Regions from separate parts of the Homo sapiens genome. Here region 1 is linked to region 2. The links come from fine-mapping of genetic effects on gene expression. A gene starts in region 2. The other region holds a variant in brackets. All regions are shown on one strand. Distances are from middle to middle.

Region 1 (5,386 bases), 21 kb after region 2:
ACGTGGAAATTGTCTTCTGACTGTTTCTCTTTCTTGATGAAATAATGAAGGACAGTATTTGGCTCTTAGGGGGAGGAAGGGATGTTTTGAGAAAAGAAAAGAAAGTTGAGTTATGGCTGTATGGTCAAGAATTGCAGACATTGTTGGTGGGTTTTTTTGTTTTTTTAAGTTGTTCTTTCTTTCCCCTGGAAGTTGTACAATAAGTTAATTTTATTCCACTGGCTTAAAGTAAGTTTGTTGTAAAGAAAAATAAAAGAGTATTTTATTTAAAGAGATGAATGAAATGTATCCGATTTCAAAATGTTAAATTGATAGGCGAAAATAAAGTTAGGTGCTCTGGGACTAAGCAAATGAGTATTCTAGTCAGACTAGGTTTGTCTTCCTTTTCAGTCGTTCACGAAGATTTACTCATAAATAGTTTGTGTTGCAACTGAGAGTGCCTAATTTTGTAATGAAGCATTTTGTTTTTTACTTCTAAAAAAAATTCTGAACATAGCTGTATGCACTGTATCTTATCCCCTGTGCTGTGACACTCACTGTCAGCTCTCATTGCCTCTCCAGGCTGGTGAGATTGGAGAGATGAAGGATGGAGTCCCAGAGGGAGCACAACTTCAGGGACCGGTTCATCGAAATCCAACTTACCGCCCAAGGTACCGTAGGTATGTCGCATTTTCCACTAATGGCCAGTTAAAGGACTTGTGTGCACAATGGTAGAATGAGGACTGTGTGGTTCCGTTTTGTGGATTTATTATATATCTAGAAGATGTGAATGCTTTGACTACATGCCAGAGTTTTCAGGTGGTGGTGTGACATTTCCCACCTACTTAATACTAGAATTTTTAGTTATCTCTGCGCCAAAGCGTCATTTTGTATTCTGGAATTATAATAAGATGTAAATTAATACTTAATTTTTATCAAAATAAATCAGATAAATTATTGGTGGGCAATTCTGTGGTAATGCTGCAGATGGAGGAAGAATTGAGTGTCAGAGGATATTTGGGATAGTGACTGTTAATCACTGAGGCAGTCCAGTAGAGGGGTTAAATCAGGGTATGATCAAATCGCCTGAATTTATCTTCCTACTCTACAGTTCATTAGATGTATGTTCTTGGACTGCATTCCAGCCTGCGCAACAGAGTGAGACCCTGTCTGAAAACAAAGAGATATTCTATAGTTGGGGATTAAAGGTACTAATGCAGCTAAGATAATTAGTGTGGTACCTGATAAAGTAAAGGCCTCACTATGTATTAGATATTATTACCACCATTGAGGTTAATATTAGTGAACGCTGGGTTATTCTATTTGTGCTTTATTCCTTTGGAAGACTGAATTAGGCTAGACTCCTTCCATAAGATCCCTTTGAAGCATTTTATAATATAAGCCTGCCCATTCTTTTATCTTACCCTTTGTGGTAAGTGGAAAAGCTACAACTTCTTCCTGAATGATGTTTATGCTACCTTGAAATTTGTCAGTATGGCTTTATTGAAGGATAAAAAGTATATTATATTGGGAAAGGATTCCACCAATATAATTGTAAAAGGATCGTATCCTTTTTCTTCACAAGGTTCCCTCCAGCTTTAGGCATAATCACTAATGATTAAGTACTAGGGACTTTGAAAATAAAAGAGACGGCATAGAAATGTCTTACTGGAACAAAAAGGATTCAGTAGCGTGTGAGGCTCAGCTTTGTCAGTCCCTGGATATGTGATCTTGGAAAGTCATATTTGACCTTTTTTAACCTATAAAAGCAGCACTTTTATATAGCTCAGCCGTATACTTTATCATGTAAACCTCTTGGTTTTCTTGTTATAAATCTCATCCACAGAATTACCATTCAAATTAAATATTTAATTTTAAAACCGACTAGCACAGGCTCTGGCACATAATAATGTTTCTTCTCATGTTTAATTCCCTTAGTCTCTGCTAAATTCTGTTCATGGAAGGCAGATACCAGACTACTCTTCTTTTCTTTTTTAATTTTCCTATTCTTAGTGCTTATCAAAGGGCCTGATAGGAACAGAGTATGTGTTCAGTATATGTATGTTCCTTACAAATATGTATTCAAATGAAAGGGGAAAATGATGGAAAATTAAGATTTTTTTTTCGTGAAACCTCTATTCCATTTGTTGCATTGACCTGCGAATAATTCTAGCAATAAGTACTCATCACTTGACTTTTTTTTTTTTTTAATTTTGAGATGGAGTCTCCCTCTGTCACCCAGGCTGGAGTGTGCCAATCTCGGGTTGCTGCAACCTCTGCCTCATGGATTCAAGCAATTCTTATGCCTCAGCCTCCCAGGTAGCTGGGATTACAGGCATGTGCCACCACGCCCGGCTAATTTTTGTATTTTTAGTAGAGATGGAGTTTCACCATGTTGGCCAGGCTGGTCTCAAACTCCTGACCTCAAGTGATCCGCCTGCCTCAGCCTCCTGAAGTGCTGGGATTACAGGGGTGAGCCATCATGCCTGGCCCTGATCACTTGACTTTTTAATTTTTAAAAATAAATAAAACCTTATTTTCTGGAGAAGCCCTGTCCTGTTGGCAC[C/T]TGTTCTATTTTCTTCTGTGTTCCCTACAGCAGGGGACCTCCTCGCCCACGACCTGCCCCAGCAGTTGGAGAGGCTGAAGATAAAGAAAATCAGCAAGCCACCAGTGGTCCAAACCAGCCGTCTGTTCGCCGTGGATACCGGCGTCCCTACAATTACCGGCGTCGCCCGCGTCCTCCTAACGCTCCTTCACAAGATGGCAAAGAGGTAAATCCAACCAGTCAGGGCGGATGTTGCCAGATAGTCTTTAATCATGTCAGACTTTAGCATTCTAAAAGTGGTTTTATCACATGAAACCTGACACTTAACAAATATAAAAACATTTTGCTCAAGATCCATATATATAGGGTATGCCTTGTACATAACACAGACCACATATTTGAATCCAGTTAACATTCTCTGAAAGAATGACCCATATTAATGGGGATTCAGAGCTAAAACATTTGGGGTTCTTCAAAGAAGAGAGGCATTTATCAAGAGGAAGCTGCCTCTAAGCATGAGTTGAAAGCAGTTGTATATCAGACTTTATGGAGAGTAGTGGTATTTAGTTGCCGTTTTGTAAGCTGTTCTTATATGGTACTAATTTTGTTTTGTTTTGTTTTTTGTTTTTGTGAGGTTTTGGTTTCGTTTTGTTTTGGTAGAGATGCCAGGGACTGAATATGGTACTAATTTGTGACTCATACTTAAGAGTAGTTAAATTTTTGCATGCTAATTTTCCTTCACAGGAAAATTCAAACTTTTAAGAACTTTCAGTCTTGAACTTTCCACTGTCATCTGACTTTATCTGATTTATGGCTTTGTTTTGCATTTTAGGCCAAGGCAGGTGAAGCACCAACTGAGAACCCTGCTCCACCCACCCAGCAGAGCAGTGCTGAGTAACACCAGGCTCCTCAGGCACCTTCACCATCGGCAGGTAAGAGCTGGGGCAGCCCAGTCTTGAGTTGGTATTTTCTTTTTAGTATCACTGGTTTCTCAACAAGAGTACAAATTAGTCTAAACTAGTTCTGCAGTTCATCTGTGCCAACCCCTTGTCTCTATTGGGACTCTGTGGAAAAAGTGATTTGGTGGTTAAATATTTCTGGGATTGACCTCATTTTGATAAGCTTTGGTGAGGGTATAAGCATTCAGACAGAGTTGATGATACTCAACTTCTTTTTTCTAGACAGGCAGTTTTTTAACTACTAGTACCACTTAGGAAAACTGATGCTAAAAGTCCCTAACAAAGGCCTGGTTTTAGTAATCAGAAACAGTTTCAGAACCTGTTTAGTAATCAGAAACAGTAGAATAAACTAAAGGATTTTTTTTCCTTCCCTTTTTCTTTGATAATCAACTTTATTTATTTTGAGGCGGTGCAGCATAGTGTATAAGAGCCAAGGTTTATCTACCCATTGCAGGCTCTACTGTACCTCTCATTTGCTGGGTGATCTTGAGCAGTTTATCCTCTGTCTCAGTACTATCTGCTACTGGTAAAAATTAGGATACTAATTATATTTACTAGGGTCGTTGCAAGGATTATTAAGTGAAATAACAGGGAGTGTTTACAATAGGGTATGGTAAAGAATAACCTCTCGTAAAAGGATAGCTTGTTATTTTCTTGTCATTTTCTACTTTTTTCTGTCTTTTAAAGGTCTTGGACATTTTATTTACATAGAATTATAGCCAGAAAGATCAACTCAATTATAAATTCTGGGTTTGTTTTTTTTTAACCTATAACCCTTTTAACTGAGACTTTAGTTCTTATACTTCTTGGTTATCACCCTTTCCATTAGCTTTTAGTTAAGAGAGAGGTTGTAAACTCAGTGTCAATGCTATTTTTCAAAAATTGTTAAAATTTCATCAATGAAGTTTTGGGATTATTATAAGTTCTTGTGTCTTAAGGCCATCTGCTTTTATATCCAGTGATGTGGGATTTTAATCAGCCATTAATTAGGTAAGCATTCACTTTGAGGACAATATTCTGTTTTATCTTGGGTAGCATGGACAGTTTGTCACAGAAATAAGTTCCCTATTCAAACTTGGAATTAGCTGATTCAGAGTAACATATTAATAATATAAAAATGGCCATACCCTTTTATGGCGTAACATTATTTCTAGGTATTGTTTCTAAGGAAATAATTTTAAATATTGGGAAAAAATATTTTTACAATTTACAGTCTGTCTGACATTTGGTAAATAGCTAATTGTGATATATTCATATTAGGAGATAGGGTGCAGCCACTAAAATGATTTTGAGTATTGTTCATTAGTAATGGTAATTTTCTTTTATACAATTTTATAAAATTTTTGCTCTTATGTACTGACTTTTCTGGTTTATAAAAATACTTTATTAAAAAGTGAGAGTTTCCATTTAATTAACATATAGCTTACAGATCTATACAAGATGTGATTGTATTTAGAGCATTTGAAGTACTCTTTTTCTAATTATATGAAAAGCATATAATTTCTGCCTTTTTATTCTTTAACTCATGGTTACTTTGTCACTCTTTATAAGTTTGATTTTAATTTTTCCCAGGTGACCTAAAGAATTAATGACCATTCAGAAATAAAGCAAAAAGCAGGCCACAACCTTAACCAACACCAAAGAAACATCCAAGCAATAAAGTGGAAGACTAACCAAGATTTGGACATTGGAATGTTTACTGTTATTCTTTAAGAAACAACTACAAAAAGAAAATGTCAACAAATTTTTCCAGCAAGCTGAGAACCTGGGAATTCCTGCACGGAAGACAAGAGAGTAGCCTCTCCAGTTTCAGCAACCGCTAGGTTTCTATTTTTTTTCCTGGTTTTTACTGTTTTGGTAATATATATATTGAAACAAGAAATATTAATACCACATGGGGAGA
Region 2 (5,386 bases):
TAGTATTCATAACTTTATTTTATCTCAAAAAGGGCTCTCTAAATTGTATTAGTTTTAAGCATCACAAAACCTGAATCCAGCCCTGAATTGCTGAGAACTTCCGAAAGATCTTGTGGCTCCAGTGGCTTCAGGAGAACTCCTGAGAACCACTGTCTTGGGGACTGGAGGCTGAGATCTTCAGTGGAGCTTCTCTGAGTTTCCCTCCTTCAGCCCTTCCAACAGTTGTGAGAGCTTTAACTTCCTCCATACTAGGAACAGAGTGGCATTTGTTTTTATGATCAAACCAATAATTGCTTAAAAATGACTGCTGTCAGCAATTAGATTATAATTCTTTGTTGACTTACTCTTAAACTTAGTAAATGATGATATTGTCTTACAATAGAAATGTTGATAGTGAAAAATAATTTTAACATCATATCAAAAGACCTTACAACCGGCTCCATTTTGGTCAACATTGGATACTCACAATGGTGTACTTTGTCCGGGACATAGCATTTGCTTAGCAAATATGAGTGTATGAATTAGTGAATGAAGGAATGGATAAATTTATGTGTATCTGTATCCAAGTTGCTTCCTACTTATGATTATTAAAACATAGATCATATTTGTTCTAATTTTCTTTAGATTTATTTAGTACAATACCAACAACTTCCAGCTGCTCACTGCTTTGTTTGGATGACAATGATGAGTAGTTTTGGAAGCCAGTCCAGCACAAATTCTAGGAAATCCCAGGGTGCATCTGTAATTATTTTAGGGTCTTCCAGAGGTTGGAGATCACACCTGTTAGTTATGAATTACTTCCAAGGATGAATTTTTTTAAAAGGCTTTACTGTTGGATCGGTTTGAAGAGTTCAATCTCCTTACTTTTTTTTCTTGTAATGTAATTCTGAAAGGTAAATAGCAATGATAATCATTTTGCTGAATAAGAAAGTCAATGGTCAGTCCTCACCAGAATAAATCATGTTTATAATTTAATTGTAATTAAGACCATAATCTTTCACATGAAGAAATAATTTAATCATTCTTAGAATTAGACCAGCATTTTAAAAGCATCTACATTTATATAACATCACTGTATGCTCCATACTGAAGTCAAACTAAAATATGAATCTAACATTTAAGAGTTTGTAATTTTTTAAATATTGATGAATTACATAGAAAAGCTCAAAATTACATAATTTGCTATTTTTTCAAATAACTTATTTTCTTTGTGTTTTTTGTGGATGAAATAAGAAAGTAAGAATTCAGGAAAGTTTCATAATAATTGATAGCAAATGTGCAGATAAGTAATTGAGTTTGGAAGAATTTGGTCTGTTTTCATTTTGTAAACATTCACTATGTCCAAACTCTGTGCTACGTACTGTACTAACCAGTGGAGATACAAAGATGAATTACACTTGATAGTTACCCTACTGATGTTAAGGTAGACATCGACATTACAGACATATTCCTGGAAAAAAATTTGGTAAATTGTTTGAGGGAACAGGCAATAACTTAAAAAACAAACAAAACAAAGGAGCTTTAGGTGGACCGGACACTGGAGTGACACATGATAATCTCATCTACTTTTCATGTCACCTTTGAGAACCTCTCATAAAGCAGGAAACCGACTCTGGGACATTGAATCTCTGTCCCAAGTTAACCTGGTTAATAAAAAACAAAGCCAGAATTTATACCTAGTCTGTCTGAACCCTAGGGGCCAAATAGTCCTGTATTCCAGACAGTCTTTGGGTACAGATCCCAGACCCTCTGGCCCTGTGTTTACTACCATCCAGCCCATTCTCAAAGGGCATGTGGGCTCTTCAACTTGGGAATAATGTTTATTGGGTGATCTGTTTCTCTATACCTCTCATCCTCGAGGCTAAGAGGGCTCAGTTCCTTAAGCTTTCACCAGCTGGCAGAGGCAACTGGAGCAGAAGGTAGGAAGTGGATTTATTCAGCTTTTTTTGTGTGTGTTCCTTATTAAATATATATTGACAGCTCCTTATTTGTTGCGGTTAAATTGGTGTAAACTCTGAATTTACATTAAATCTGTGAGGTCAATTTCCTCATCTGCGTGTTACAGATGAAATTATCCGTATATTACCTTTCAGGAGTAAGTTGCCAAATAGTCTTAAGGTTTTATTATTCCAGGTCTTAACAGCTGTGCTACGAATAGCTGCTGGTGCTTGATACATGTTGAATGACTGACTAGATGCAAAGGATTTAAAAACAAGTGTTTGAGAGGGTAAAGCGCAGAGTAGTTTGGGTGCCCTATTTTACCTCTCCTTGTCAGCTGCGGGTGTCAAGACGGGTTGAGGGAGGAGAGCCAATGCACCCCGCTCCAACAAAGGGTCAGCAGCGCGGGCTCCTCGGAACGCTCCAGAAGACAACCCGGGCGCCCCGTTCACCCTGGCTTTCCTTGGTTCTGCAACGCGACCCGCGCGCTCGCGTCCCGGCGGATTGGAGCCATAGAAAGCGCACCGGGCGCCTTTAAATGCTAATGAGAGTCCAGGGCCCGACTCCCGAGCCAAGTTTCCCCACCCTCTCCCCTCGCCCGCCCTTCCCTCCCGGGCCGGTGCGCCGCCTAGAAAAACTTGTGCGGGGCCATTTTTGGGGCAGTAAGATCGAGCGAGGAGCCCAAGAGAGAGCGCGCAGCACGAAGCTCGAGCCGCCTCCGCCGCGCGACCCCACCTCGGCCGCCGCCGCCTGCGCCGCGAGATCCGCCCCGGCCTCCCCGAGAGCGAGCCCCGGCCGCCGCGACCACCAGCCGCGCTAACCGCCGACCAACCGCCACCGAGGCGCCTGAGCGAGAGCAGAGGAGGAGGAGGCATGAGTGAGGCGGGCGAGGCCACCACCACCACCACCACCACCCTCCCGCAGGCTCCGACGGAGGCGGCCGCCGCGGCTCCCCAGGACCCCGCGCCCAAGAGCCCGGTGGGCAGCGGTGCGCCCCAGGCCGCGGCCCCGGCGCCCGCCGCCCACGTCGCAGGAAACCCCGGTGGGGACGCGGCCCCCGCAGCCACGGGCACCGCGGCCGCCGCCTCTTTAGCCACCGCCGCCGGCAGCGAAGACGCGGAGAAAAAAGTTCTCGGTGAGTCAGGCCAGGGAGGGCAGGGGCTGCCGTAGTGGGGCGGGCCCAGCCGGCCGCGGAGCACGTGTGGGCAGCTCGCGCTACATCTCCCACCCGGGCTGGAGACGCTGACAGCACAGGGTCCCCAGGGATCTCCGGGTCCCCAGGGGTCTCCGGGTCCCCAGCGCTGGCCGCCTCCCTTGCCGGCGCTCCCAGGTGAGCGCGCTGCGCCCTGCGCTCCTGGCGGCCGTGTGCATCTCCCTTCTGGTTCCGGGCCAGAAAGTTTAGGTCTTAACTTCTGTCTCCCAGACGGGCACTGTTGCGGATTCGCGTGGTGGAAAATGCCTGCGTTTGGAGAAGAAAGGAGAGGCAGTCTGGGAGAGGGGACCTTGGGTAGGGATGGATGTAGGGGAAGGACCGACACGTGGGCCTGGCGCTTTGGGGTCCTTGCTTGGGATCTGGGAAAGGAGAGCATTTCCTTTGGGGAAGAGGAGGGCGCTAGAAGGAGACGGGGAGGGAAAGATAGAAAAGCTTCTTGCCAGGAAGGGTCAGGTGTCTGTCCCTGACGCCCTTCCCACATGGGCATGGGAAAGACGCCATGCTCCTGTTGGCCACATGCCAGCAAAGAGATGTTGCAATCGTCTCCGGGAAACTTGGGTCTTAGTCCCACGTCTTCCTCCCCCTCTCTGTGCCCACGGCTGCAAACAGCCATTCAGTGTCCACCAATGGCTACACGCTTCCCTCTTCCCGGACTGTGGGAACGCACGTGGTGTAGCAGCTGAAAAAACTTTGTCGGAAGTGGGGGTATGACGTTAGTTCAAAACATTGTTACCTTGGCACTTGTAACGTAGGAAGGGAAACAGGAAGATGAAATGTTGAGATTTGGGGGGGCAGTGGATGGAAAGGGTTTCTGTGATGGTTGTTGGTTTAGTCACATAACAAGCGTTCTTTTCGTAAGTAACGCCCCTGTGTGAGTTCTTAAACGCTTGCAAAGCAGGTGGGTGGTGAATAACCTCCCTAAAGGGTGTGTGTCCATATCGTTCGCTCTTATAAACAGGAACGTTAACAGATGGTGTAGGATGCTTCGGAGACCTCTTCACTATTTGGGGTGGGGCATGTTTGTCTCATCTCTCTGAGCCCTACTTCCCCTTTGGGAAGAAAGTTGAGGGAGCAATGTGAGAGAAGTGTATTCAATATTCCCCACCTTGAGAGGACTATTTTCTTGTTTTTTTTTTCTAGGGCTTTTACTAAGTCCCTACCAAACAACATGCTAATTGTAACCTGTGTAGGTTAAGAAACAAAATAGGCCTGATTTTGCTGGACTAAAAGTTGCTTAAATCTAGTCAGTAGTACATTGTGATGTTGTTTCTAGCAAATATTTCTTGGAACACTTTCTGCCAGATGTCTGAGAGAGAAAACCTTGTGTTCTCCAAAGCAGTGTTAGGATAACATTGTTAATGATACCTTATTTTGTAGAAAGCTTTTGCGGTTTTTCACTTAATCCTGTACTGTTCTGAGATTGGGAAAGCAGATACTATCTTTAAAGATGAAGGAAACAGATAAATGAAGGTTAATTTCCTCAAGCAACTGCCTCTGCAGATCCCTGGTGATGAGTCTGATGCCTTTTATCTTTCCACTCTTACTGCGTCTCTCTAAAAATGAAGGACAGCCCTTTCTACGTGACACCTCAACACTGTTTGTCTCTGTCTAGTGTGTCCTGCCATCCCCTTTCCTTTGCCAAGCAAACACATAGATGCCTAAGATGTACTAGGCACAATGCTGACTAAAATGGATATGTTCTAGTATTTGCAAATGGGCCTTCACTTGAGTTTATAAGCACATAGGCCAGGAAAAATAGTTTTCATGAGTGCAAAAAAATTTTCCTTCTGATAAATGTTATGGAAATCTATGGTCTTCCTCCCCAACCCTTCCCCTTAGTGTATATGAAGTGGGTTTATGGTTTAAAGCAAGACGTGGGAATGAATTTGATCATAAGAAGTCCTTGGAGAAGTATTTGCGGAATTACGAAACTTTTTTAAACTACATTGGAGAGTAAAAATAACCTTCAGCTTGGATTGAGGTTAGACCTGAGAATTATTTATCATCTTTTTCCTTTATTATTAGTATTGTCATTTTAATCAAGATTATTCCTTCAACAATGCTAGATATTAAAAACAGTTCCAGTCTTTATATTTTCCCAGGTAATTAATTTTTTGGGCAAATGAAAAGAGGCACTAAACGCATATTATTTGGAATATTGCCTGACTTAAATGCATATAATGTATCAAAAACAGGCCTCTACTGTGTACATTTGCATCGAAAACATCAACTGTT

The links. PIP is the estimated chance that this variant, and not a neighbour inherited with it, causes the effect.
Region 1: its variant is the best candidate, but not a certain one, in a credible set for the expression of YBX3 in whole blood (TOPMed, PIP 0.55).

The regions. Positions count from the first base shown.
Region 1 is chr12:10,699,324-10,704,709 of GRCh38, reverse strand. It overlaps YBX3 (Y-box binding protein 3), which reads left to right. Exons shown (of 10, transcript NM_003651.5): 7 at 562-659; 8 at 2,576-2,750; 9 at 3,357-3,456; 10 at 5,056-5,386. The coding sequence ends at 3,422. Among named protein-coding and RNA genes, the nearest start is that of YBX3, 21 kb to the left of the region's middle. The variant C/T (reference allele first, on the strand shown) is at 2,546.
Region 2 is chr12:10,720,537-10,725,922 of GRCh38, reverse strand. It overlaps YBX3 (Y-box binding protein 3), which reads left to right and starts at 2,600. Exons shown (of 10, transcript NM_003651.5): 1 at 2,600-3,073. The coding sequence starts at 2,812. LOC124902876 reads right to left here and starts at 2,871. Exons shown (of 2, transcript XM_047429946.1): 1 at 2,263-2,871; 2 at 605-886. The coding sequence starts at 2,813. The coding sequence ends at 817. RefSeq lists silencers at 2,485-2,704, 2,725-2,824, 2,955-3,354.